2 separate regions of the Homo sapiens genome follow, and region 2 is linked to region 1. Evidence: fine-mapped expression QTL. A gene starts in region 1. The other region holds a variant in brackets. All regions are shown on one strand. Distances are from middle to middle.

Region 1 (15,122 bases):
ACTACCAACTAGAGAAACTCTTGACATAAATTACACATTTTTTCTTGTCTTTTAAAAATATGTATGTATTTTTTCTTAAAAATCAGGCTCATAAACGAATGGCTTTCTACTCTTTTTTCATGTAATCTCCTATCAGGGGAATGTTATCATACCATTAAATATTCTGTAAGAACATGATTTCTAGGGCTGGATACGGTGGCTCACATCTGTAATCCCAGCATTTTGGGAGGCCCAGGCAGGAGGATCACCTTAGGTCAGGAGTTTGAGACCAGCCTGGCCAACATGGTGAAACCCGATCTCTACTAAAAATACAAAAATCAGCTGGGCGTGGTGGCACATGCCTGTAATCCCAGCTATGTGGGAGCTGAGGCAGGAGAGTTGCTTGAACCCTGGAGGCGGAGGTTGCAGTAAGCTGAGATGGCGCCACTGCACCCCAGCCTGGGTGACAGAGAAGACTCCGTCTCAAAAAAAAAAAAAAAAAAAAAAAAGAAACAAACCAAAAAAAAAAAAAGAAAAAAAACCATAGATTCTAATGAATTGTTTGGGCTCCTACAATATATCTAGTACTACTTGAGGTGCTGAAGACACAGAAGGGAACAAGCCAGTCCCCACGGTCAAGGAATATATATCCTGCTGAAGAAAGACAAGCAATGAACCTACAAAAATGTTCATAAATGATATAATTTCAGAATAAAATCGGATGATGGATAGTGACTGGGCAGCCTACTTTGCTTGAGGGAAGACCTCTTGAGAGTGGGACTTCTGAGTTGATACCTGAAGGCTGAGAAGGAGGCAGCCATGCAAATATCTTGGGAAAGAGCTCTGTGAGCAGAAGGAACAGAGAATGCAAAGATCCGGAGGTAGGAATGAGCATGACGTGGTCTACGAACAGAGAGAAGCCCTGACGGCTGGAGCTGGATGAGGAGGGGCAGCGAAGAGAGAATTGTAACTGGAGGGCCAAGAGGGGCCATGCCACATAGGCCTTGCAGGAGTTGGGACTTCATTCTAACTGCAATGAGAATTCAATAGAGAATTCTCCAGCAAGGGAGTGACACAATAGGGACATCTCTTCAATGGCTGAGTACCAGAGTAGAGGCAGCAGAGCTATGCCAACAGGCTATCACAGTAATCCAGACGAGAGGTGATGAAGGCTCAGCCTGGGACACAGTGAGACTCCAGAAGTGGTGGATTCAGGACATAATTTGGTGATAGACCCCATAAACTTTTTTTAAAGGTTTTGGATAGATAGCTTTTATCATTTATTTATTATTGAAGATATGTACGACACAATAAATAAGCTTGCTTCAGACGTATATATAGAACTCTGTATCCAATAATGAGTGAATCCACATTCTTCACAAGGACACACGAAACATTTCTGTGAAATGCCTGTGGACTAGTCCACAAAGCAAGTCTCTGTAAATTTCAAAAATGTATACCCTTGAAAATCTCTGAAGTCCTGGAGATTTAAGTCTGCAACTATCTTAGTCTTACTACCAAGAATAGCCCCTAAGGAAAAAAAAAAACCCTTTCAATAAAAAAAAGATAAACAAGAATAATATAAATTTCACAGACTCCAGCTAACCAGCTTTTGGTCACAATGTAATTAATTTCACTCTTAATGCATTGCTGAAAATATTTAAATGCCTGGGGAACTGGCTCCAACCCACAATCTCCTCCCCTACCCTACATTCCAAATAGATCAGGCATTTTACACTTGGCTCATCTTCGGTGAAGACAGTAATTAATCTTTATTTGAAAACAAGATTTGGGAGGCAGACGCAGGCAGATCACCTGAGGTCAGGCGTTTGAGACCAGCCTGGCCAACATGGTGAAACCCCATTTCTACTAAAAATATAGAAAAATTAGCTGGGCGTGGTGGCGGGTACCTGTAATCCCAGCTACTCAGGAGCCTGGGGCAGAAGAATCGCTTGAACCTGGGAGGTGGAGGTTTCAGTGAGCTGAGATCACGCCACTGCACTCCAGCCTGGGTGACGGAGCAAGACTCTGTCTTAAAAAAAAAAAAAAAAAAAAAAAAAAAAAGCAAGAAAACGAGTAAAATCCAGCACTCACTGCATTATTGAGCCTACAGAAATCTATGATGAATTTGACAGGGAATATTAGGATAGGTAAAGAATCAAGGGTTTCATGAGCAGTCAAGTGGAGGGTGTTACCATTTACTGAGATGAGAAAGACTTGAAGACCAGCTGTTTTTAGGGGTAAAAATGGAAGGTTCTGTGTGGACAAAGTTAGCCTGAGATGTCAACTATAGACCCAAGCGTAGATGTTGAGTAGGCAACTATAACAGATAAACGAATGAGGAGCTCAAGGGAAAGGCCAGGCTGGGGATATAACTAAGATCTATACACTGGATTAGATCATCTAGCTGACTGCACAGTTGAGTAGAGAAGAGAGCCAAGGGCAGAATCCTCAATACTCCAACATGCACAGGGTTTATGGGATTGTCTACCCCCCAACAATTCATGTGTACCTCACGTTTCCCATCACCTCTGCAATTTGGTAGGGCCACGTGAGTGGCTCTGGACAATGAATGAAGGAAGCATCTAAGGACTGGTTCAAGACCCTCAACTATTCTCATCTCCTGCCTCAAAAATCGTGAATTCTTATGTTTCTGAAGTTAACATGTCTGTCAACCCTAGGTCCTGAATGAGTATGTGGCTTTAAGACCCTTTCTGATCCACGTCAGACATATAGCATGAAAGAAAAACAAACACTTGTGTGTGAAGCCATGGAAATTCCAGAGTTAATTTGTTACCTCGGCATAACGTGGCCTAATCCAGAATGCCATCATATGATGCGCTTCAACAAAGCACCATTTTTCATTTTTTTAAAAAGGCGTTATGTGATTTGAGAGGCTGTCAACAAAATATATTGGTGGATGGCTGGGTGTGGTCGTTCATGCCTGTAATCCCAGCACTTTGGGAGGCCGAGGCAAGCAGATCACTTGAGGTTAGGAGTTCGAGAACAGCCTTACCAACATGGTGAAACCCTATCTCTACTAAAAATACAAAAATTAGCCAGACATGGTGGTGCAGGCCTGTAGTCCCAGTTACTCGGGAGGCTGAGGCAGGGGAATTGCTATTCAGGAGGCTGAGGTAGGGGAATTGCTTGAACCCGGGAGGCGGGAGGCGGGAGGCAGGAGGATCACTTTAGCCTGGGAGGCAGAGGTTGTAGTGAGCTGAGAGCACACCACTGCACTCCAGCCTGGGGCAATGGGAGTGAAACCCTGTCTCAAAAAAAAAAAACAAACATATATACACATATTTTTTATATATGTATTTATATACGTATACACACACATACACACAAATACATGTATATACATATATACATATATGTACACACATCCTGCTTATAAAATGAACAAGGAGTTCACGTAAACTAATTCAGATAGAACCTGGAAATATATATATAGGGGTATTTCTGGCTTCTCTCTGAATATATATGGATACACACACACACACACACACACATATATACACATACATACATATATGGGTGTTTCTAGCTTCTATCTGAAATACAGTTTAAGTGAACTCCCTGTTCATTTTATAAGTGGAAGGGCAATCCCTGAACCACTGAGTGAATAATGCAGGACAATGTCCACTATTTTGAAGACACCTCATTTTTCAACCTGGTTTTTGCCCCTGATTAGTTTTTCGTTGCTGTTTTTTTTTTTGTTTTTTTGTTTTGTAGCCGTGGTCTCGCTCTGTCGCCAGGCTGAAGTGCAGTGGCACGATCTCGGCTCACTGCAACCTCTGCCTCCCGGGTTCAAGCGATTCTTCTGCCTCAGCCTCCTGAGTAGCTGGGACTACAGGTGCACACCACCACTCCCAGCTAATTTTTGTATTTTTGGTAGAGACGGGGTTTGCCCATATTGGCCAGGATGGTCTTGATCTCTTGACCTAGTGATCTGCCTGCCTTAGCCTCCCAAAGTGCTGGGATTACAGGCATGAGCCACCGCGCCTGGCCCCTGATTCTTAAAATTTATGAAGAATTGTTTTTTAATTTATTCCTTAGATAATTAAAAGAAATAACATTGGTGGATGCCTTGCAACTTTCTAAATTTCTCCTAAAACAATAATCCTCTCCAATATGTCAGCTTTTTTAAATATGTATGCTTCATTAGACAAACTGATCATAACAGGTATTCTTCATTCATTTGACAGATTTTAATGGAATCTCCACTGTGTTCCAAACATTTTCTTAGGAACCAAGGAAGTAATGAAATAGAGCCAGTAGTTACCCTCATGATTTATAGTTTTGAAACCTGGAGTATACTTATCTGGTCTCAAACTCAGTTCTGAGATCTTGAGAGATGGGAAATTAGTTTTTGTTTGTTTGTTTGTTTTTGGAGATGAAGTCTCACTCTGTCGCCCAGGCTGGAGTGCAGTGGCATGATCTTGGCTCTGCAACCTCTGCCTCCCGGGTTCAAGCAATTCCCCTGCCTCAGCCTCCCGAATAGCTGGGATTACAGGCACCTACCACCACGCCCGGCTACTTTTTGTGTTTTAGTGGAGGAGGGGTTTCACCATGTTGGCCAGGCTGGTCTCCAACTCCTGAGCTCAAGTGATCCGCCCGCCTCGGCCTCCCAAAGTGCTGGGATTACAGGCGTGAGCCACTGTGCCTGGCCCAAGAAATGGGAAATTAGTTAACCTGTATGTGCCTTAATTCTTCATCTGTGAAATGGAAATAACTCCTACCTTGCAGAGTTACTGTGTGTATTAAATAAGACAAAATGGGAAGCTGTTTTTATTTAGGCGTTAGAAATGCACTTGGACCACCTTAAAGTGAAAGAGGTTTTACTATACAAACCGGAACTTTCAAGGTATCTGGGACTATGGCAGTTTGAGCGACCAGTGACTGGGTACTCCTTGCATTACTCACTTGTGTCTGTGTCTCTCTGTGTGTCTCTTTGCTTCTTCCATTGACTTTGCTTCTTCGTACCCTCTCCTCTGTTCTCTCACTTGTATTATTTATGGCTTCTGTTTCTTCACAGCTTCAATCACCATGCCCCTTCATAGCCCTAACTCTATCCTATGATTTCTTTCTGTGCTTTCTTTCTGCTTCACCCCTCACAGATAACTACTTAATTTCATTTTTTCAGCTCAAACTTCCAGGAGAATCTGCTGGGATGATTCATTCATTTGGGCATTCAGAACACGGACACGGACACACACACACACACACACACACACACACACACACACACACACACACACACACGATATCTGGGCCCCACTGTTAGGGCCCTCTGAATTATCCCTCCACTCTCATCCTGAAAATGCCTCCTGTTGACCTGCAAGCTGTTAGAGATGCTGAATTTGGTCCCCACTCCAATCTACTAACTCCAGAATCTACATTTTAACACTATGCCCAACTGCTTTGTGTGCACGTTCGAGTTTGTGAAGCATTGCTTTAAACTGCTAGCTCTCAGAACAGCCACTTGTATGTTGGAAACAGCTGGGGATTAAAAGCATACAGATACTGCTGCCTGAGTCTTTCCCCCAGAAGTTCAGATTTGATTTTTCTGGGGTGTAGCCTGGCAAAGGTCTCCAGACGATTCTAATGTAAAGATAGGTTTGAGGACCTCTAAACTAGTTCTGTGTCACCGCTGACCAGTTGTGTGAGCCTAGACAAATCGCTGTCTCTCTCTCGGCCATATTTCTTTTTTTTTTTTTTTGAGATGGGGTCTTGCTCTGTCACCCAGGCTGGAGTGCAGTGTTGGAATCTCGGCTCACTGCAACCTCTGCCTCCCGGGTTCAAACGATTCTCCTGCCTCAGCCTCCCTAGTAGCTGCGACTACAGGCACGTGCCACCATGCCCGGCTAATTTTTTGTATTTTTAGTAGAGATGGGGTTTCACCGTGTTAGCCAAAATGGTCTCTATCTCCTGACCTGCAGATTCTCCTGACCTGCCTTGGCCTCCCAAAGTGCTGGGATTACAGGCGTGAGCCACCATGCCCGGCCATATTTCTCATCTCTAAAGTGAAGATAATGTAGCCTATCCTGTCTACCTTAGAATTGTTCAGAAGGCCAAATGTGATATTACATGTAAGACTGTTTTGAAATGTGTGCCTATGAATCTAAGTATCTCATTCATCTCTTCTCTAAACACATCTTTTCATATATAAGTGGGGATTCAAGGAAATAAATGCATTATGAAATACAAGAATTTAGGTAACAGTGCATGGAAGACAATGTCACCTAGCTAACATTATTGTTACTTGTGTCACATTGCTAGGTACTGCTATCCCAGTTTACCTGTCACAAAACCCAGGGTTAGAGAAGCTCATGTTATAAATAAACTTTCAGTGCCACAAAAGAAATAGCACTCGAATATAAAATTTTCTTTTTAATTCTCAGCAAGGCAAGGTACTTCTATAGAAGGGTGCGTCCTTACAGATGGAGCAATGGTGAGCGCACACTTGGACAAGGGAGGGGAAGGGGTTCTTATCCCTGACGCACGTGGCCCCTGCTGCTGTGTAGTGCCCCACCGCACAGGCTAAACTAATTCCGATTGGCTAATCTAAAGAGAGTGATGGGGGTGAGTGGTTTGGCGGGAAAAACAGTTATGACAGAGCAGGTAATCTGAGTCAGGGTGGCGTAGGTAATGGGAAGGAGTCAGGGTGGAGTAGGTAATGGGAAGGAGTCAGGGTGGAGTAGGTAATGGGAAGGAGTCAGAGTGCAGCAGGTAATCGAAAAAGGTTGTGGCCGGGCGCGGTGGCTCACGCCTGTAATCCCACCACTTTGGGAGGTCGAGGCGGGCGGATCACGAGGTCAGGAGATCGAGACCATCCTGGCTAACACGGTGAAACCCTGTCTCTACTAAAAATACAAAAAATTAGCCGGGCGTGGTGGCAGGCGCCTGTAGTCCCAGCTACTCGGGAGGCTGAGCCAGAATGGCGTGAACCCGGGAGGCGGAGCTTGCAGTGAGCCGAGATCACACCACTGCACTCCAGCCTGGGTGACAGAGCCAGACTCCATCTCAAAAAAATAAATAAATAAATAAAAAAGAGAAGGTTGCTTTAGGAGGAAGTTAAGTTTAAAAGTAAAAAGCAAAGAATTGAACATACTGACATATTGATTCTTTGAAAAGAAATTTAGAACTCATATCTAACATGAAGCAACTCCCTCAACGTTCTGAAGGCTATTAAAGAGAAATTATTCATCTGAGGCTTGTTAAAAACGGCAAGACTTTACTCAAGACTACTGCAATAGGTGAGAGAGACTGAATTCGACTCTAGAATACAACCGGGACCAGTGGAGATTTATAGCCAGGGGGCGGGATGGAAGGGATGAAAGAGAAGATGGGAAATTACCAGAACGTGGTAAGCTATCTGGGGGAGGGGGAGGAGGAACTTTACTAGATATCAAGGGCCTTAGAAGAGAGCATCAACAGTGAGGTCTCTCTTGATAAACAGGCTTAGCAGGATTCTTTGGTAAAACCAGGCTCAGCAGGCCGAGGATGCCGTCTAGTATAGAAAAGGCCTCAAAGGAGCCCGACTAAAGTTTGGTCACGGAGGGCGTCTGTCCCGGCGGAGTTGGGGTGGGTGGGTCTAAGTCTACAGACCTGGCCGACGCTACGTCCCTAAGGTTAGGGACTAACAGACCTCATAGAACACAGTCTGTTGGTCGCTGTACACCCGTGAGGGGTTCATCACAGTGGCCAGCTATAAGACGAACGGTTGCATTCCAGCCTCAATCGCAACAACCACAAATCAGTGCGCCGGCTTCCTTATCTGCCCCGAACGCAGGCTGCCGGCTATCGAGGGAAGGAATCCTACCGCGGACTCCGCGGGCGGGGCCTCCCGCACCTGCCGCGCGCCAATCACAGGCCGGCGCGCAGGGGCGCAAGCGCCGCAGCCCTGGGCGGGGCCCCCGTGGCTCCCTCGTCTCCCCCGCCCCGTCGGCCTCGCCCGGCCCTGAGTGGCCTTCGGGGATGACGTGCGAGGCCGCCTCGGCCTATGGCGGCGGAGCCGGCCGGCTGCTTGGCGGAAGTGGTGTGGGGGAGGTAGCCCGCAGTGCAGGGGCAGCGCGGCGCGGGGCCACCGACGGGACGCGGCTCCGGGAACATGGCTCGCTTCGCTCTGACTGTTGTCCGGCAGTGAGTATGGCTGTGGCAGGATGTCTTTCTCTCTCTCTTCCTTGAGTGTGTTGGAGCGGGTGAAGGGAAAACGGGTCCACCACCCTCTCCCCTCCCTGCTCGCTCCAGCCCGGGAGGGCTGGCTTGGAAGCGCTTTTTCCGGGGCGCTTGCCCTGGGGCCGTCCCGTGTCGCCCCTCCTCTCACCCCAGCAGCCCCGAGGGACGACGGCAGGTCTTAGATAGCTTCGTTCCGTGTTTCAGATAAAGTGAGGCCCGGAGGAGCAAGGGATCGGGGTTCGTAGGCACTTGGTGGCTGCACCAAAAACGGTGCCAGACATGTCCACAGACTTGTCTGGGTACCGATTTTGCTCCCCAGCAGATTGCAAAGAGTTTGCAGAATTGCTCGTCCATGGCTGATGTTTTTGATGCCGGCTGCCTTCCGCTATCCTCTCAGTTTCTGAGGTTCCCCCTCGTTTCCCCAGGCAGTCAGCCCCCCAGGCACATATATGAGACTTCTTTCTTTTCCCCAGAGGTTACAGTTCTGGGAGAGAAAAGAGGATCACAGCTCTGATCTCAGCAGACCGTATCATCCCAAATAAATGTTTTTATTATCATAACGTTACACGGAGCTGCATGCTGATAGGTCTTTATGTATTTGCCAAGTGTTAACGGGAGGTGAAAATCAGGGTAGTTAAGAGCACAGATTTTTATTTTTATTTTTTTTTTTTTGTGAGATGGAGCCTCGCTCTGTCACCCAGGCTGGAGTGCAGTGGCGCTATCTCTGCTCACTGCAACCTCCCGCCTCCGGGGTTCAAGCGATTCTCCTGCTTCAGCCTCCCGAGTAGCTGGGATTACAGGCATGCGCCACCACGCCCGGCTAATTTTTGTATTTTTAGTAGAGACAGGGTTTCGCCATGTTGGTCAGGCAGGTCTGGAACTCCTGACCTTAAGTGATCCGACTACCTCGGCCTCGCAAAGTGTTGGGATTACAGGCATGAGCCACCGCGCCCTGCTAAGAGCACAGATTTTTCAGGCAAGGTAGACCTCGGTTGGAGTCTGTTCTCCAGCTAAGAGCCAGGTAGCCTGGACTTAAGTTTCCTGATATGCAAATGATAGTGCGTATCTCACTACTTTAATGCGAGAATTAAATGGGGGACAGGTAAAGTGTATGATGCAACAGGGAAAGAAATATATCTGAGAAATAACTTCTATAAAGAAAGCTCCAATAAAAGTGCAGTTGATTCCCAAATACGAACGTATAGTTCAGCACACCAGCATTTTGAGTAGGTAATGTGTGCCAGTAGACTGGATCATACAGATAAATAACATACCATTTCTGCATTCATGGAGCTCACAAAGGACATTAATATGATTTAACTTTGTCAATTGACTTTAACAGCTATCTTTTCTGGCCTGTCCTTCCTTTATAAGAAAGATAATCTTAAGAATCCTCTAAAATTGTCTGTTTAGGATTAGCAGGATTTTAATGGCTACCTTAGAAATCTAGTTCCTCACTATCTCTTCTCCCACCCCTCTCGGTTGTATAGAATGCCTTGGGAGAATTCTTAACTTACTAAAGGTCACACAGCTAATCGGTAGCAGAACAGGAACTAGAGGCCTGATCACCCTTTCTTCCAATGTTAGTGCACTTTCTAGACGCCTGACCCAGCCAGCCCAGTGTCATATTTATAATTGAAACTCAGACCATCAAGGTGGTTCACCCCTGTAATCCTAGCACGTTGGGGGGCGGAAGTGGGTGGATCCCTTGAGCACAGGAGTTCAAGACCAGCCTGGGCAACATGGTGAAACCTCCTCTCTACAAAAAAAAAAAAAAAAAGCTGGCTGTGGTGGTGCATGCCTGTGAACCTAGCTAATAGGGAGGCTGAGGCAGGAAGATCACTTGGATCATGTGAGCCTGGGAAGTGAGGGCTGTAGTGAGCTGTGATTGGGCCACTGCACCCCAGCCTAAGCGACACAGTGGGACCCTGTCTCAAAAAGAAAAAAAAGAAAACTCAGAAGTTGTAGAATATTTGGGGTAAGGCAACCCCTAAAAAGTAAGATGATTCCTATTTAGATTCCTAATAGACAATAGTCATATAAATATGGATTTTATTCCCTTTCTGCTGCTTAAAAAGGGTTTGATTCCGGAGGCCCTCATAGGAATCATTTAAAAAATAAGTCTTAATAAATGATTATTTGCCAGGCACTGTTGTAATTAAAATCTGACAGTTTAGTGAGTTAAGGACTGATATCCTCATTTTTCACATGAGGCAGCTGAGACAGAGACGCCTTGTAACTTGCTTAAAGTCACATGGCAAGTTGAGGAAGTAGGAGTTTAACCAAAGCAACTTTACCACTCACCGTCTTTTGTTTCCTACTTAATTTGTTAAAACCCGGTATTTGTAGATTACTTGAACATCACCAGCCATTTTTGAGGCTACTTTTTAGTCTCTTAATATAATTGTGTGGAGTTATGACAATAGTTTATTTTGTTCTGTTTTATGTGTAGGAAGATGGAGTGAGAGGGCTGGTTCAATGCTTTCCGGTCTGGATCCTCCTGCTTCTTGCCTTCAGAGTTCTCAAAACCAAAACCTGGTGATTCTTTCAGGAAAAGAAGTGATTTTTAAATTTGACTCATTATCACCATAGTTAAATGTAATGACTTTTTGAAGAGTTAGATAATTTTATTGGACTTACCTCTTCAGATAATGCAAAAAAATCTTTAAAGCAATTTAAGTTCAACAGAACCTGTTAGGAATCTTGTGCTGTTCCTGTATGTGGTTTATCTTTCTTCATACTTTGAAATGAAAGTACCAGTGTGTATCATTTCTGGAACAGACTGCCCAAGATTCCAGAATTCAAGTCTATCATCATTGTCAGACTATAACTTCTCATGAGCTTATGGCACAGCATTGTTGAAAACTCCAACACGTGTAGGTTGGCATTACCATCACCTATCCAGCACTACTGAAGGGTCTGGTTCCTTGGAATGTTGTAGGTGTTTGCAGTGAGTCCCCGGCAAAACCATCCATTTAACTTCCTTTTTTTTTTTTTTTTTGGAAATATGTGTGCCTTTATTAGCTGAGCCACTACTTGAGGGGGATGAAGCGGGAGGAGTGGGTGGCCCCGATGCCGGGCCGGCAGTGCTTCACCAGCTTATAGGTGATGGAGAACTCGCCCAGGTAGTGACTGATCATCTCCGGCTTGATCTCCACCTGGTTGAAGGTCTTGCCGTTGTAGACGCCCACCATGCTGCCCACCATCTTGGGCAGGATGATCATGTCCCGCAGGTGCGTCTTCACCACTTCCGGCTTCTCCATGGGCGGTGCCTCCTTCTTGGCCTTGCGCAGGCGCTTCAGCAGCGAGTTCTGTTTCCGCCGCAGGCCCGGGTTCACTTGCGGCCGCTGGCACGCACTGTACAGCTGCGTCAGCTGCTCGCAGGACACGTCCCGTCCCGCAGCTGGTCCAAGTCTGTGCCGCGGTAGGTGAGTTTGCGGAAGGTCCGCTTCTTCTGCTCTACCTCGGCCATCTTGTCGGATCCTCAGAAAAGTTCACTTCCATTTTTAGGCAGCTCGTAAAGCTTTAAAATTTTTTGGCAAACTAAATTTAATATACTTTTAATGATTTAAAAATGAATTAGTAAAGTTTTTTTGTTTTTGCTTTTTTTTTTTTTTGACGAAACGGAGTTTCACTCTTGTCACCCAGGTTGGAGTGCAATGGCATGATCTCCGCTCGCCACAACCTCCGCCTCCCGGGTTCAAGCGATTCTCCTGCTTCAGCCTCCGGAGTAGCTGGGATTACAGGCATGTGCCACCATGCCTGGCTACTTTTGTACTTTTAGTAGAGATGGGGTTTCTCCATTTTGGTCAGGCTGGTCTCGAACTCCCGACCTCTGGTGATCCGCCTGCCTCGGCCTCCCAAAGTGTTGGGATTACAGGCGTGAGCCACCCCACCTGGCCGAATTAGTAAAGTTACTGATAGCAAAACTGATTTTTCTTACTGTACTTTTATTGGCAGTTACTTTTTGTGTAATGCTAATAATTGTTCTGTATATTAATAAAGCAAGCAAAATACTATTAGCTCATCTGTAATTTAGTATTTTTATAAAGCTAATACTTTTATAAAATTTTAATGCTCTATAAAAGTATAAAGATACCTTGTACAGATACTTTATAAAGATCAAAGACAGCCGAAAGTCCTGCAATCCCAGCACTTTGGGAGGCCGAGGCGGGTGGATCACCTGAGGCCGGGAGTTCAAGACCAGCCTGGTCAACATGGTGAAACCCCGTCTCTACTAAAAATACAAAAAATTAGCTGGGCGTAGTGGCACTCGCCTGTAATCCCAGCTACTCGGGAGGCTGAGGCAGGAGAATCTCTTGAACCCGGGAGGTAGAGGTTGCAGTGAGCCCAGATTGCGCCGTTGCACTCCAGCCTGGGCAACAAGAGTAAAACTCGTCTCAAAAAAAAAAAAAAAAAAGAAAGACCACCAAAAGTCTTGTGTTACTAGCTCTTGAAATCTTCTATATTTGCAAATGAATGTATTAGTGTAAAGGAATTAGGACTAAGCTGTATTCGTGATATCAGGTGAGGGTTTACATTTTCATTTACACTAAAGAACAGCTTTCCCATGATTTGTTCCTCCTTTGTAGCACGCTGAGTATTGTGTGTTGAATTTGAATTCCTTAAATGGAATTAAGGGAAATTGAGGTTTCTGTATGATTTTTGAAGAAATGCTGCAGCGTATAAATCCAGGCTAACAAGATATAATGTCTTTTAAGAACTGTGAGATAACCTACAAAATGAATGATGTATATTTGTAGGGCCTATAAATGGCTGATCCTAAGACTTAACATCTTGGCAGAAGCACTCGGATTCCTGCAGAGTCAGGTTTCTGTTTTGGAAATGGACCACACTGCAGATTTTGAAAATGAGTGGTGTTATTCCTGACTCCTTCAAAATATATCCCTCTGACCTTTCAGCTCCGTTCACCTTCTCTGCTGCTATCACAAGTCAGACTTGGTTAAGGGAAATAGATTAATAGTAAAACTGTTTTAGCCATCAAGTTTCCTTTCCCATTCCCCAAACGTACTAATTAAACAGTTACTTCAAGGATTTATATAAACCTCTTAATAAAGCTGATAAAAGCTGTACAACTAAATATTTATGAAAGCTTTTGGAAAAAAATCTATTTTTGGATTCCTACTCTTTAATATTTATAAAGTGATTTGAACGCAAAAATGCCAAATAGAACTAAACTGAATGCTGTGATTGTTAATAATACTATTGAGTCTACAGCAGCCTCTGTTGATATATGGCTAAATGAGTCCTTCATTATATCACAGTGGTTATGCTGCTTTCACTGAAAATCGTTAGATGGTGGGGCAGTACTTTTATGAAACTATCAAATTTCTGGGATTCCATTTTTTATAAAATGACATTTTGACAGTGTAAACCTTTATTTTAATTTGAATCTTTCATTATCTACTTTGATTAAATAAAAATGCTGAGTTACTCTTCAGCAAGTATACAAAAAGTAATCATCTCTGCCAAATTTCTGTGATTTGTAAATTCTGAGTTTTTTTGGTGGCTCTTGCATGATTTCTTGGTTGGCAAATTATTAAATTTCTTCTCACCCCTCATTTCAAAATGAGGGTGCTTCTTTGGCTTTGGCTGGAAATTGTGTTAGCAACCTATAAAAAGAAAAACTTTAGACAAATTAGACTTAGTTTATTTGAGCAAAGAAATGAATCATAAATCAGGCAGCACCTGAACCAGTAAAGCTTCAGAGTGCTCACCCAGTGACATAGGCAGGCAGTATTTATAGACAGAGAAAGGAAGTGACATGGCCAGGCGCAGTAGCTCGCACCTATAATCCCAGCACTTTGGGAGGCCGAGGCAGGAGGATCACCTTAGGTCAGGAGTTAGAGACCAGCCTGGCCAACATGGTGAAACCATGTCTCTACTAAACATACAAAAATTAGCTGAGCGTGGTGGCGCTTGCCTGTAATCCCAGCTATTTGAGAGGCTGAAGCAGGAGAATCGCTTGAATCCTGGAGTTGGAGATTGCAGTGAGCCGAGATCACACCACTGCACTCCAGCCTGGGCTGCAGAGTGAGACCCCATCTCAGAAAAAAAAAAAAAAAAAGAAAGAAAGGATGTGACATATAGAGATAGCCTGATTGGATACAGCTCTGCTTTGCCTTATTAGGACATGTCTGAGCAGTTTGCAGCCCATAATTGGCTGAAAGCTCAGCTGCCATGCATGGTTGGCTGAGACTTGGTTTTTATTACAGGAATATACTCTCAAATTATGTTGTAGTTTGTGTGCATATTAAGTTAGGTGACAGCTCCCTAGGCATGGAGGCAGTTTTAGGCCAGGTTTAAATTAAGGGCTACAAGCCACTGTCTAGCGAGGATGTTACTTGTTTTGTTTTGTTTTTGAGGGCGCAATCTCGGCTCACTGCAGCCTCCGCCTCCTGGGTTCAAGCGATTCTTCTGCCTCAGCCTCCCGAGTCGCTGGGACTACAGGCACACACCACCACGCCCAGCTAATTTTTGTATTTTTGGTAGAGACGGGGTTTCACCATATTGGCCAGGCTGGTCTCAAACTCCTGACCTCATGATCCGCCTGCTTCGGCCTCCCAAAGTGCTGGGATTACAGGCATGAGCCACCGCGCCCAGCCGAGGATGTTACTTATATTGAAATAACAGATATTTTATTCTTGGTCTCAGCAAGATTTTGAGGCTGAGACAGGAAGTGAATCCAATACATGGTAACTATTTTCTAGATTAAAAATGACAGGTTCCCCATGTTTGCCCTGAATGCTTCTGCTTTATCCATCTGAATGGTAGAGGCTAATATCCTCTTTCATGCCCATTTTATAAGATTCTGAATGAATTTTGGAGTGTAGGAAATCTTTTTTTTTGAGATGAGGTCTTGCTTTTGTCGCCCAGGCTGGAGTGCAATGGCATGATCTTGGCTCACTGCAACCTCCACCTCCTGGGTTCAAGTCATT
Region 2 (15,122 bases), 35 kb after region 1:
TTACAGAATTGTTGAAAGATCCAAGAAGTGTACCAAATCCCAACCAGGATAAGTAAAGAAACCCATATCTACATTCATTATAGCAAAATTGCAAGACTCCAAAGAATGAGGAAAAAACCATCCTTTATTAAAGACCATTAGTTAGGCTGTCAGCAAATTTGTTCATATTGATGATTTCTTTATTGTGCTGAGAAATAACAAGGATTAACCTAGAGTTTTATACCCAGCAAGATTTTTTTCTGCTGTGTAGGTGAAATGACATTTCAGACAAAGAGATTCTGAAGTAACTTTGAAAGGAAAAATGAAAAAGAAGGAAAATAATTGCAGAAGGGAGATCTGAGTTTCAGAAAAGAATAGTGAGCAAAGAAGTTGGTAAAGGTTTAGGAAAATACAAGGAAATATTGACAGTACATATAAAACAGTATGATGATGATGTCTAATTTGTTGGGAAATGTGTTTTTAAAAAAGGCAGATCATGGACCTAAATTATTTCTATGTGACAGGGTCGCTTGTCAATCAAAAATTGCTAGACTTACAATGAGAGAAGGAAATGTGAATAAAAATGAGCTAAAGACAACAGAAACAGCCACATGACTTACCCGATGGAGTTACCAGACATGAGCTTTAAAATAACTATATTTTTGTATAGGTGAAAGATGTAGAATTTCAGTACAGAACTGTAATAAACTGTAAAAAAGAGCCAAATGCAAATTCTAGAACTAAAAATACAATTGGAATTAAGGCTCAATGGATGGGTTTAACAACAATTTAGACACATTTGAATGGCGAATTAAGGAATTAGAATGGGGATTAGTAAACATTTTCTGTAAAGAGCCAGATAGTAATTTTTTTTTAGGGTTTATAGTCTATACAGTCTCTGTTAACACCTGTTCAAGTCTGCGGTAATAGCAAGAAAGCAGCCATCAACTGTGCATGAATGAATGCTGTGGCTGTGTCCCAGTAAAATACTTTATTTGCAAAAGCAGATGATGGTCTGGATTGTGCTGACTTCTGAACTAAAAGATAGGTTAGAAGAGAATATCAAAATCAGGAATGAAGAGACACAGATGTGTACACAGATGTACACAGAGAGGCAACTTTTGCAAAGGAAAATCATTTCTAGTTTTGTTTTTTTTTTTTGAGATGGAGTCTCATTCTGTCACCCAGGCTGGAGTGCAGTGGCGCAATCTCAGCTCACTGCAACCTCCGCCTCCCAGGTTCAAGCAATTCTTCTGCCTCAGCCTCCCGAGTAGCTGGAACTACAGGTGCGTGCCACCACATCCGGCTAATTTTTTGTATTTTTAGTAGAGATAGGGTTTCACCATGTTGGCCAGGATGGTCTCGATCTCCTGACCTCATGATCCACCCGCCTCAGCCTCCCAAAGTGCTGGGATTACAGGTGTGAGCCACCGTGCCTGGTTCTAGTTCTTTTTTATTCACTAAGATGACATAGATTCTTTCAGTGCTTCCACCAGAATGGTGATTATTTTTATAAAGAAAGAAACAATTGTCTTGATTTTCAGACCATGCATGGAATTTTGGAGAGAAGCAAATTTTGCAAAGATATGACGGTAAAGTATGACTCAAGACTTCGGGAAAGGGTGAGTAACTTATTTACATATTGTTCTTCCCCATAAATTATCAGTAAGCCACCTCAGTTTGTCACTTGGCTAAAAGTTAAATGCATTTCTGCTAGGGATTTCGAATCAGTGAAAATATTTAAGAATCTACCATATGACAGTCACTGTTACATACCCTCGTATATAGGATCTTATTATTAAAATCAAACGAGACAAGCATCTTAAGGTATAAAAGAAGGTACGCTCATAAGAACTTAACACAGTATAGAAGAGTTTAAAGTAAAGGTGAAAAATATGGATATTGCATAATTTATGTAACCTAGCTACGCTGATGGAAAGCTAGATTTTCACTAGACTACCACTGATGTAAATAATGTCAAAATAAACATCTTTGTAGTTAATTTATTGTAGACCTATATATTTCTAGAAATGGACATCGGCGAGTGTGTACTTTTTTAAAGGCATTTATATACATATTGCCAAGTTGCCTTCCAGAAAACCTGTGCCAATTTATAGTCCCATGAATGACCTAGGAGAAAGTTTTGTTTTTTTACACCAACAATTGGTATTATTAGACTCTGTGATTTTCCAATTTAATAGCTTAACAATGTTGCCATGTGGCTGGCGTGGTGGCTTACGCTTGTAATCCCAGCACTTTGGGAGGCCAAGGTGGGCAGATCACTTGAGTTCAGGAGATTGAGACCATTCTGGCTAACATGGTAAAACACCATCTCTACTAAAAATACAAAAAATTAGCCGGGTGTGGTGGCACGCGCCTGTAGTCCCAGCTACTCGGGAGGCTGAGGCAAGAGAATCGTTTGAACCCAGGAGGCGGAGGTTGCAGTGAGCTGAGATCGCGCCACGGCACCCCAGCCTGGGTGACAGAGCGAGATTCCGTCTCAAAAAAAAAAAAAAGAAAAAAAAAGAAATAGATCTCTCATGTTAGCGTCTCTGAAACTCAACTTCCTTATAACTATGGTGATATATTTATTTAGCTATTTCATGGTGCTGTCATTGGGATCAAATGGTGTAGTATGTGTGGATGGGAGATGGCTGAATTGGTACCTTGTGCATGTTAATCTCTAGTCCTATAATCTGTGCAAATCTCTGTATTTGTTCAATAAATTCCCACCATCTGCTTGCAATAGCAAGTTCTTCTAAAATAACCCATTTGGACATAGTGTACAACTTAAGATTTCAATTATATTTTCTAAGGTTCATGGCCCTCTACTGAGTACATTCTCATTATCAGTTCAGAGGAGATAGAATCAATTAAGTGGAGGAGAGTTAGCTTATTCCTGGGATGAATGTTCTAAATTTGCCATAAACATAAACTTAATTGTTATATTGCAATTTCATTTGAGAAACTGTTATCTATTGGACTGTTTCAGAAATACGGGGTTGTAGAAGGCAAAGCGCTAAGTGAGCTGAGGGCCATGGCCAAAGCAGCCAGGGAAGAGTGCCCTGTGTTTACACCGCCCGGAGGAGAGACGCTGGACCAGGTATGTGGCGCTGCCGATGTCAGAATGGTTGAATTAAGACTCAAAATTAGATGTTTTGGAATTTTAGCTAAGCAGTTTGAAAGTTGCTTGGTTCATTCTCTTTTCCATTTTAAATTATCTATTTACTTAGCAAATTATTCTTTTCTATTTAAAATCTTATTTACTGTTCAGTTGCCTTTGTCATTATTGATAATGGACTTAAGGAAAGGTGTTATTAGATGGTACTTCTAAAAAAGACCTTTGAATATGAAGCAGTGGCTTAGTGGTGGGAGTGGAGTTCAAAGAGGGTGATCGGCAAGTCACTCGAGGTGAAATAACTCAAAACATGAAGTCTTCAAGCCTCTGCTGCCTCCTCAGCTCTGTTCATGGTGGCATCCCTGTGCTTGCATTTCTTTGGAGTGTTCTGCTTCGAATTGCATATTGGTGATTCCCCCTAACCCACCACCACCTCCTTAATCTTTATCTTAATTTTCTTGAAAATACTTTCCATTACTTTAGTAAGGGAAGGATTTGTTGCTGCTGTTGTTCCAGTGGCACTGAAGTGCCAGAGACAGCTTCCTGGTTAGCACTGTTTTATGAGTTTCTGTTGGCTTGTAGATTTCCCTAACTAGACCGTGAGTGCTTTGAACTCAGGAATTGGGAATTGGATCTTCTTCATCTTGGTCTCCATGGTGCTTTTGTAATTCCAGAAATGTGGTGGATACTTATATATGTCCATGAAACTACTGATTGAACGAATAGAAATGTAGATTGATATTCTTCTGCTTGTGTAGTACTTGGCATTCAATATTAGAAAAAAATCCAGTCAGTTATGTTCTATGTTAACGTTTTAAGGAAGTCATTAATGTCACTTTATTTTGACTTTTATTTCTTTTCTTGTAGGTGAAAATGCGTGGAATAGACTTTTTTGAATTTCTTTGTCAACTAATCCTGAAAGAAGCGGATCAAAAAGAACAGTTTTCCCAAGGATCTCCAAGCAACTGTCTGGAAACTTCTTTGGCAGAGATATTTCCTTTAGGAAAAAATCACAGCTCTAAAGTTAATTCAGACAGCGGTATTCCAGGATTAGCAGCCAGTGTCTTAGTTGTGAGTCACGGTGCTTACATGAGAAGTCTGTTTGATTATTTTCTGACTGACCTTAAGTGTTCCTTACCAGCCACTCTGAGCAGATCTGAACTTATGTCAGTCACTCCCAATACAGGGATGAGTCTCTTTATCATAAACTTTGAGGAAGGAAGAGAAGTTAAACCAACGGTTCAGTGTATTTGTATGAACCTACAGGATCATCTAAATGGACTGACTGAAACTCGCTAAGGTTAAATCTGCATCAAAATCTAACCATTTTGAGCCTCTGAAGGGAGTGCCATTGGCTTTATTTACTTCTCTCCTCTGCTAGTTCTGATTTGGAAACAGTTAAAAGCCAATTTTTAGCTCCAGTGGAACCATAGCCACATAAAACTTTAATGGACAACCATATAGAATTAACTTATTTTGTCCAAGTACAGTTGGCATTTTCCAGAATAATTTTACCACCCTGCTAGATGTCATCTCTGGATTGCACATGGATGATGAAGGAACTCAGCATTGAAAGTTGGGGGATTAGTAACCTTGTTACAACGGTTTCTTTTTCATTTTAGCCTATTTTAATGGCTATTGGTAAGATACTGTATGTTTTTAGTATCTCATCCAGTGCTTAGAAGAAAGAATGGTTTATAATTCCCAGTACATGTTTATATTGACTGTGTTATATTTTTAAATCCTTTAAATAAAAAATCCTTATAAGTTTATGTAAAGCAAAATAACACTAACATGTTTTACGTATAAATCAACTATTGGAATTTTTTATTCTAGAGGGCTTGAAATGTGGATGAATACAGATTATGATTGCAGAATGGTCTGGGGGAAGAAGTTAAAACATTTGATTTAAATACAGTAAAGAAAGAATCTTGGAGCAGAAGATAGAAGAACAGCCTTTTCTAAATAATGCCTTGCCAAAGTCAAGTCAATGGAAACCAGGAAAGCCAAAAAAATGAAGAATATCCACTTGCTTCTTATCTAACCTGTAGGCTGAAGAATTTCCAGTTTGAGGAAGGCTCTAAAGAAAGTAAACAGTTAACAGAACACCACACAGTAATCAGAATAAAAGAGGGGCCTTCTTTGTAAAGAATGGTGCTCTGGGCCGGGCCCAGTGGCTCACACCTGTAATCCCAGCACTTTGGGAGGCTGAGGCGGGCGGATCACAAGGTCAGGAATTCTAGACCAGCCTGGCCAACAATGGTGAAACCCTGTCTCTACTACAAATACAAAAAAGCCAGGCGTGGTAGCAGGCGCCTGTAATCCCAGCTACTTGGGAGGTTGAGGCAGGAGAATCGCTTGAACCCGGGAGGTGGAGGTTGCAGTGAGCCGAGATCGCACCACTTCACTCCAGCCTAGGTGACAGAGGGGATGACAGAGGGTGCTCTGCGGGCAGGGAAGGCGGGGTGGTTGGGGGGGAGAGAATGTTGCTCTGATAACCACAGCTGTGGTTATTTTGTGGCAGGTACAGGTGAGGTTGCCTCTTCTTTCCACCAGATGGCACTGGAGAAAAGGGATTTTGATTAACTTAATTTTATACACAAGATTGGTCTTTCAGAAATCTTTATCTAAATGAAGAAACTGTTCTACATGTAGTTCGCTTTTAAGTCACCATGTTGCTAAATGCTGTGAGTCTCAACTTTAAAGAGGGTTAATACTAAAGTTGTCAGTTAAGGCTATAGTCACATATAGTCAAAATTTACTTTGACATCATTTTAAATCATATGTAAAATTCAGTATTATATTGTTCTTAGTGTGTCTAGCACTACCAGTTTTCTACCAGTATTGAAACAGGGCACGTGTTTGAGCATCAGAGGAAGTATACTGTAAATAAAAATTTGAAAAATAAGCAAAAAGGACAGACAATAATTATCTCCATTCCCACCATACTGAAGTCATCTTTCCACTTTTTTTTTTAAAGAAACAAAACATAAAGATAAAAGTAGAGTTCTCTTTAACCAGCTCTCACAGTCCTGTTCCCTCCAGAGGCAGCCACTGCAGTGAGTCTGTGTATATGTTCACCTGTTCATCTGCTTGCAATGTTCATCTGTTCCTTATATTTTCACCTAGTGTCTGGAAGGAGATGGTACTGTTTTGGTGCTTTAAAA[A/C]TAAATATCAAGCCATCTGTGTTCTTTATTTTTACTTATGTCTTGGAGGCATCTCTGTGTTGATATATATAGATCTAGTTAATTATAACCACTCTATTCTATTAAATATAGCACATTTTTGTTTATTAGTGGGCATTTAGGTATATTCAGTTTTTATTTTCTTTGCTTTTTTTCTTTTTTTTTTTTTTTGGAGACAGAGTCTCTCTCTGTTGCCCAGGCTGGGGTGCAATGGCGTGATCTTGGCTCACTGCAACCTCCACCTCTCGGGTTCAAGCAATTCTTGTGCCTCAGCCTCCTGAGTAGCTGGGACTACAGGCATGCACCACCACGCCTGGCCTTTTTTTTTTTTTTAGTAGAGACGGGGTTTCGCCATGTTGGCCAGGCTGGTCTTGAACTTCTGACCTCAGGTGATCCACCTGCCTTGGCCTTCCAAAGTGCTGGGATTGCAGGCATAAGCCACCGTGCCTGGCCTATGATGCATTTTTTTAATATGTGTTCTTAATTTTTAAGACAAACCAATATACCTTATCCTTTATGGGGTTTTTTTGGTGTGTATCTTTAAGAAGACTTCTCTACCATGAGGTCATACAGTAATGTCTTCTTACAGTTTTTGAGAACTTCTGAATGTCAAATCTTGAAATTGAAATTTGCTTTTTATAGTATAAGGTAAGAATTTAATTTTTTTTTTCATGTGGTTGAAACAGTTATCCCAACACCATTGTAAAGGCTGTTCTTTCCCAATTGGTTTGTGGTGTGTGCTCTCAGGCCTCACACCCCCTCATTTGCTAGAGTCTGTGGACTCTTTTAGTTATCTGTGTATTTCCTTATCAGTGTCATACTTAGTTACTGTGGCTTTGCAGCTGACTGTCTTAAAGGGTGGATACCTCCTCTTGTTCATTTTTAAAGTTGTCTTAACTATTTATGCACTTTTATTCTTCCATATAAATTTTGGAATCAATTGGTCAATTTCCAGAAAAATTCTGTTACAAATTTTATTGGAGTCACATGCATCTCTTCATCTATTCAATACGTATTTTTTGAGCATGGCACACACATGCCAGGCTATTTTAAGAACTACTACAACTATGATAAAGCTGTGAATATGTAGCCATGAACCAAAACAAAGTCTCTGTCCTTGTGGAACATTTGTTCTGTCAGAGAAGACAGTGTGTTGGCTCACATTGTGGTCAGTGCTGTTGAGCAAAATAGGTCAGAGTAAGGGGGATGGAGACTGGTGGGAGGAATGCTGCTTTATCCAGGATGGGCAGGGAGGACTCGATGGTGTCAGCACTGAAGGATGTAAGATCTGCTGCTCTGGGGAGAGGAGCAGCATGGAAGGAGTAGAGTGCAGAGGCCATGAGGAAGGATCAGGCTTGACTCCTTTGAGCAAGGGGGATGGGAGAGTGACGGGAGAAGAGGACAGGCCACATGGCCTGGTGGCCTGTGCTGAGGCCTTGGGCTTTTACTCAAGTGAGATGAGATGCCATTGGCCAGTTTGGGCAGTGATGTGATCAGACTTGTTTCAGCAGGACCATCCTGCTTGCAATGTGGAGAGCAGGCTGTAGGGGGTGCTATAGGAGCACAAGGTTGGAGGCAGGGAAGATGGCAGCACTGGCTGTTGGGCCATTTGAAGAAGCAAGGCCAGGGATGTTGGCAGGGACCAGGCCAGAGTGCCTCCAATGGCTAACTAAGGAGCCTGGACATTGAATTTCTAGGTTAGCTTAGGATTTCTCATCCTCCCATCTGTGAATGTCATAGATCTCTCATTTTGCCTGAGTCTTTTATGCAATGATATTTTATTTGTAATATTTTCCCGGTTTTTGATTGTTTTTTAACAAATGAATTTTTTAAGAGACTTAATTTTTTAAGAGAAACTTTAATTTCCCAGCAAAAGTGAGAGGAAGGTAGAGAGATTTCCCATCTATCCCCTGCCCCTACACACGCATTGCTTCTCCTACTATCAACATCCCCCACCAGACCAGTGCATCTGTTACCATCGGTGAGCCCACATTACACTGACATATCCACATCACCTGAAACCCATAGTTTACATTAGGGTTCATTCTTGGTGTTGCATGATCTGTGGGTTTGGACAAACGTATGAAGACATGTATTCCACCATTATAGTATCATGCAGAGTATTTTCACTGCCCTAAAAGTCCTCTGTGTTCCCTGTACTCATCTTTCCCACCTTGTCTTGCCTGTTTCTGTTAGGTTTAGTCCGAGGCCTAGCAGAGGGAATGGGCAGAAGTTTCCAGTTCCAGGCTTCACCCCAGGCTCGCAGCTTCAAGCAGAGCCTGTCGCTTAGGCTCCCTTGCACCTGGAGTCGAAACCATGGCTCCCATTCACCTGTCTCTTATTTTCCTGTCCTTCCCACTCCTCACTCACCTACTATTCATTTCCATTTTTGGATGAGGATTCTCCTTTATTGCTTTTTAACTAAAAACCTGTTTTAGTTAGCATCTTTATTCTAATTTCTTTAAATGCTATGTCATACTCAGCAAGGACATGCTCATATTAGGGGAAGCACATAAAGTAAGATATCCCTGAGAGAACAGTGCATCTCACACCCATTCCATGGCTTAGGCTTATGCAGGAAGTGCAATATTTGGCCATATCACTTAAGTACATATGCTTATATTATGTATACTTGCATGCATATTACATTTACAAGTAGATGAATTCGTGTAAGTTAAATGGTTCTATTATATGTCTTCACTATATTAAGGTCAGTCACAATTTAATTGAAATAGATCATCCTAGGTGAATCCACCTGGCATAATTATCAGCCCTGTTAAGCACAGACACAGGAGATGCAAAGGAAAGAAGTATTCAGTAGAGCGGTGGTGCTGGGCTGAGTACCTGCTATCAGACGCAGCACTTACCAGTTTGGAAATTGAATGGGGCTCCTAGAAAACATCCTTGTTTCATGTAAATGTTGCTTTTTACCCCTCTTTCTTTGGGCCCCATCAATTTGGAAGTACAGCTTTCAGATTGAAGTATGTGTCAGTTCCTTTGTGTCCAAACAAGATGGCTAAGTAGGTCGTCATGACAGGTAACTACCAGTGCTTTAAAAACTTTAGGATTTCCCCCCACAGTTCTCAATCACTTGGTTCATTGTTCAGCAATATGGCCTAAGGGGGTGATTTCTTCATTGATAAGTGACAGGGCAGGGACACTGGAAAGATCTATTGTCAGAAGGCCTGGATTCAGGTTCAAGGCCTGGTTCTTAGTAATTTTGTGACCAAGCAATCGCTGAGGTGGCTGGGCGTGGTGGCTCGCACCTGTAATCCCAGCACTTTGGGAGGCCAAGGCGGGCAGATCACGAGGTCAGGAGATAGAGACCATCCTGGCTAACACAGTGAAACCTCGTCTCCACTGAAAAATAGAAAAAATTAGCCAGGCCTGGTGGCCGGCGCCTGTAGTCCCAGCTACTTGGGAGGCTGAGGCAGTAGAATGGCGTGAACCCGGGAGGTGGAGCTTGCAGTGAGCCAAGGTCGCGCCACTGCACTGCAGCCTGGGTGACAGAGCAAGACTGGGTCTCAAAAAAAAAAAAAAAAAATCATTTGATAAATAATGGGCTGTGCATGGTGACTCAGGCCTGTAATCCCAGCACTTTGGGAGGCCAAGGTGGGTGGATTACCTGAGGTCAGGAGTTCAAGACCAGCCTGGCCAACATGGTGAAACCCTGTCTTTACTAAAAATACAAAAATTAGCTGGGCGTCTCCAAAAAAAAAAAAAAAGAAAAAGAAAAATCACTGAGCTACTGTATCCTCATAGAGAATAATTACAGTAATGTGTATGTGCGTGTGTTTTGGTAATCTTTTATCTTGGATTTATCAAACCTACAGAAAAGTTGCAAGAACAGTAGAAGGAATGGCTGTATACTCTTCACACTTATTCACCACTTGCTTACCTGTTGTCCCACTTGCTTTGCCATTTTTTCTCTCTCCCTCTGTTTTCCCCTGAAACATTGGAGAGTAACTTTGAGTCCTCATACTCTTCCCCTATAAAATTTCAATGTGTGTTTCCTGAGATCAACAATGTTCTTATATATAACCCAGAATAAATATCTGAGTCAGGAAATTTGACATTGATATTGCCTATTAGCTAATCCTTAGACCAAATTTAAATTCTGTCAATTATTTTGTTGATGTACCTGTGGCTTTTTTTTTTTTTCTGAATCAAGAATCCAATCAATCCAGGACTGTGTGTTGTGTTGCATTTAGTTGTCATGTTTCTTCATGTCCTTCCGTCTACTCCTTTGCCTTCCTTTGCCCTTCTTTTTTTCTCCCACCATCTATCTAACCAGATGAACTTTGTCTTTCTTGATCTTGTTACTTTTTAAAAAATAGGTGAGTTCTTGTGGTTTTTTTTCCTGACATATCCTCATTATTAGATTTGGATTGTATACTTTTGTCAGAAGCAGCCCAGAAAGGATGTGTCCTTGGTCATGTCAGGAGGGACAGGACGTTGTATCAATATGTCTGGTTCCTCATTAAATTTGCAACTACTCTTTTAGCCTTTATTGTTTATTTTCTGACTCTGTTTTTTTTTTCTTTAGCCAACTCACGCCATGACTCTACTTTTGCTTCTATGTTTATTAGTTGGCATTCTGTACTAAGACAGCTTTACCCTTCTTGCCTACTTATTTATGTCAGTATGAGCTCAGAAGTTCTTATTCAGGGGCTTATAATACAGTACTCTTATTATTTTATGGTTACACAGTCCCAACTTTGTCCTGTGGGAACCCTTTCAGGCTGGCTCTTATGTTCTGGTGACATAATCTCATCCTTCTTTAAGTACTTTCTTTCTGGTATTAACAATATGCTCCAGACTCATTCTTCCCGAGCCCCAGCCCCAGAATCAGCTTTTTCTCTAAAGAGCCCTGGTTCTTTGGAAATGAAATGAAAGACGCCTGGTGTGCATGGTATTTAGAAACCAAGATCTCGGTGCCAGGGTGCTCATTGCTAATAGTGCCTTTAAAAAAATTACTGCATTGAATTCCAATGCATAGATACACAACAGTTTGTTTATTCTTCCATTGACGGAACACAAGGACCATTTCTAGTTTGGAGCTATTATGAATAAAGCTGCTATAAATATTTTTACAAGTCTTTTTGCGGACGTATGTTTTCATTTCTCTTGGGTAAATAATCTGGGAGTGGAATTGCTGAGTTATAGGTTATATGTTGGTGTATGTTTAGTTTTATAAGACACTTGCCAGATCTTTTTCCATGGTGGTTGTACCATTTCATGCTTATCAACAATGAGTTCTAGGTGCTTCACATCCTTGCCAACATTTGTTATTATCAGTTTCTAAAATTTTAGCCATTCTGATTGTTGTATGGTAGTATATCCCTGCAATTTTAACTGGTGATATGGAATGCTTTTTAATGTACAATTCTTATTGATCATTCATACAGCTTTCTTTGTGAAATGTGTATTAAAATCTTATCCATTAAAAAATTGTGTCATCTTTTTATTTTTGAGTTGTAGGAGTTCTTTATATGTTTTGGGTATACAAGTTCTTTGTCAGATGTGTGTGTGTGTATGTATGTGTGTATGTGTGTGTGTGTGTGTGTATATATACACATGTATCTACATATATATAATTTTATTCCAGTCTGTATATTTATTATAAAATATGTTATTCTACCATTTATCAATTTTTTTAAGTTGTTGATTTTCATAAGACTGATTTACCATTGTGTTTGTTTTATGATTATTGCTTTTTTTTTGTCAAAGAAATTTTTGTCTATCCCCTGGTCATGGAGACTCTGTTTTCTTCTAGAAGATTTGTGATTTATAAGTTTTATATTTAGGTCTTGATCCATCTGGAATTTTTGTGTGTGGTATGAGGTAGCAGGTTCAGGCTTATGGTTATTTACCTGGATATCAAATTGTTCTAGCAGCATTTGTTGAAAAGACTTTTCTTTTCCCTTGAATTTATTTGGTTCTTTTGTCATAATTCAACTTATTGTGTAAGTGTTGGTGTATTGCTGGGCTCCTTATTTAATTCCATTTATCTTTTTGTCTATCCATATGCAAATATCACACTGTCCTGATTATTCTACATTCATAGCAAGTCTTGAAATCAGTGTATAAGTCACCTATGTACTTGTTCTTTTTCAGGGTGGTGGTTGTTGTTTTGGCTCATTGCAGGTCCTTTGTATTTCCACATAAATTTTTTAAAAATATACTTTTTAGAGCAGTTTTTAGATTTATAGAAAAATTGAGACAATATGTAGAATTCCCATACACCTGCATCCAGTGTCCTCTGTTATTAACATCTTATGTTAATGAATTGATACTGACACATTATTAACCAAAGCCCATAGTTTATTCAGATTTCCTTAGTTTTCACCTAATGGCATGTTTCTATTCCAGAATCCCATCCAGGATACCACATTATGCTTACTTGTCATGTCTTCTTAGGTTCCTTGTGTGTGTGTGTGTGTGTATACATTTCATTACCCTTGCTTTTTTAATGTGGAAAGTATACATAGCAGCATTTACCAAATCAACTATTTTTAAGTAGACAATTCCGTGGCATTAAGTCCATTCACACTGTTGTGCAACTACCCTTGCTTTTTTAAAAAATTGACACATAATTGTACATATTTATGGGGTATAGAGTGATGTTTTGATAAATGTATACAACATGTAATGATCAAATTAGGGTAATTGGCATATCCATCACCTCAAACGTTGCTCATTTCTTTGTGTTGGGAACATTCAAAATCCTCTTTTCTAGCTATTTGAAAATGTGCAATGAAGTATTGCTAACCATAGTCACCATACAGTGCAAGAGAACACTAGAACTTATTCCTTCTATCTCACTATAATTTGGAGCCCATGAATCAGCCTCTCCCTGTCCGTGTTCTCCTCCCCTTTCCAGCTCCTGGTAACCACTGTTCTCTCTCCTTCTATTGGATCAACTTTGTTAGCTCCCACATATGAGCGAGATCATGCAGTGTTTGCCTTTCTGTGCTTAGACTCCTCTTGCCTGTAACAGTTTCTCAGACTTTCTTTGTTTTTTTTTTAATGACCCTGGGAGTTTGAGAAGTGCTAGTCGGGCGTTTTGTAGGATGACTGTCTGTTGGAATTTGTTTGATATTTTTCTCATGATTAGACTGGGGTTATTGAAAAGTAAAGTTCCATTTTATTTCTTTTCTTTCTTTCTTTTTTTTTTTTTTTTTTTTTTGAGACAGAGTTTTGCTCTTGTCGCCCAGGCTGGAGTGCAGTGGCACGATCTCGGCTCACCGCAACTCTTCTGCCTCTCGGGTTCAAGCGATTCTCCTGCTTCAGCCTCCTGAGTTGCTGGGATTACAGGCATGAGCCACCACCCGGCTAATTTTGTATTTTTAGTAGAGATGGGGTTTCTCTGTGTTGGTCAGGCTAGTCTTGAACTCCTGACCTCATGTGATCCACCTGCCTCAGCCTCCCAAAGTGCTGAGATTACAGGCATGAGCCACCGCGCCTGGCCTGTAAAGTTCCATTTTCATTACATCATATCAAGTGTAGATGATATAAATACGACTTGTTTCATTTGATTGTTGATGTTGACCTTGATCACTTGGCTAAAGTAGTGTTTGTCAGGTTTCTCCGTTGTAAAGCTATTCTTTTTTTCTGTCTTTCCATACGGTACTTGTGGAAGAAAGTCAGGAAGTCACTGTGCACACAAGGAGTCGGGATTTATGATCCTTCTTTTTGAGGAGGGAGTATCTACAAGTTATTTGGAATTCTTCATGGATGATTTTTTTTCTTATTACCTTATTTATGTATGTATTTATTCAATCATTTATTTATATCATTTTGTTCTTGTGAATAGTTATTTTATACTTTGGGTTATAATCCCATGCTACTTTTTATTGTTGTTTCTCAAATTGCTCCAGCTTCAGCCATTTGGAGCTCTTTCAGTTGGCTCTTGTGTTCCTTTGAAATACCCCCATCAACTTGGCTTGTTTTTATTGTTGCTGTTGTTTTAACACAGGTGTACTTTCTGTCAGTACTAGACACTCTAGGCTCCTCTTGCATATTTCATGTCCCATTCCTAGAACCAGCCATTTCTTCAAGGCACCGTGGTTCCTTTTATTAGAGAATGATGTTAAAAACCAAGATGAGAGCTAGGTGTGCTGGTTACTATTAAGGTATTGTTTCTTTAGGCCCTCTCAGCTGACAGAACAAGGAAATATATGTGTGTATACTAATCCACATATGTATACATAGCTATAAGTATTTCTATATGTGACCATCTGTATTCATCAATGTAACGCTTATGTGCAGTTCCTTTTGCCTTTAGTCTTGCAGACTTCACTCATTTCCAAAATTACTTAGGTTAGTCAGCACCTTTCCCCACCACCCCAGTGAGGTTGTTTTATACACATGTAATATAGTTAGATTACTTTGTTCCATATACATTTTTAAGTCAGCTTGTTCATTTCTGTTTTAAAAAGGCTGCTGAGACCGTACTTGTGGAATAATTGACATTTTAACCATACTGAGTCCTCCAAATCAGTATCGATACAACGAATTTTTCTCATCAGTGTTGTGTAATATTTATGTTTGACATTAAATTTGTCCCTAATTATTTTATGGTTTCGTTTGTTCCTATTTTATGCTTATGACCCTGTTATAAATTGAATTTTTACATTTTAATTTAAAATTTTACTTTCCAGTGTTTGCTGCTGGTATATAATTTGTGTGTGTGTGTGTGTGTGTGTGTGTGTGTGTGTAGCTAAATTTGCATATTATTTTTAGCTTTAGTTGAGTTCTGGTCATTGCTTTGTGGATACCCTAGGGCTTTCTACATAGACAATCATGTCCTCTCAGAGTAGACGTTTTTATATTTGTAT

The links.
Region 2: its variant is fine-mapped to the expression of TIGAR in whole blood (INTERVAL, PIP 0.99).

The regions. Positions count from the first base shown.
Region 1 is chr12:4,313,177-4,328,298 of GRCh38, forward strand. It overlaps TIGAR (TP53 induced glycolysis regulatory phosphatase), which reads left to right and starts at 8,037. Exons shown (of 6, transcript NM_020375.3): 1 at 8,037-8,127. The coding sequence starts at 8,096. It also overlaps the pseudogene RPS15P7. RefSeq lists an enhancer at 7,629-8,282 and a silencer at 7,748-8,127.
Region 2 is chr12:4,348,296-4,363,417 of GRCh38, forward strand. TIGAR (TP53 induced glycolysis regulatory phosphatase) reads left to right here. Exons shown (of 6, transcript NM_020375.3): 4 at 1,524-1,601; 5 at 2,972-3,082; 6 at 3,965-11,733. The coding sequence ends at 4,396. Among named protein-coding and RNA genes, the nearest start is that of FGF23, 24 kb to the right of the region's middle. The variant A/C (reference allele first, on the strand shown) is at 6,265.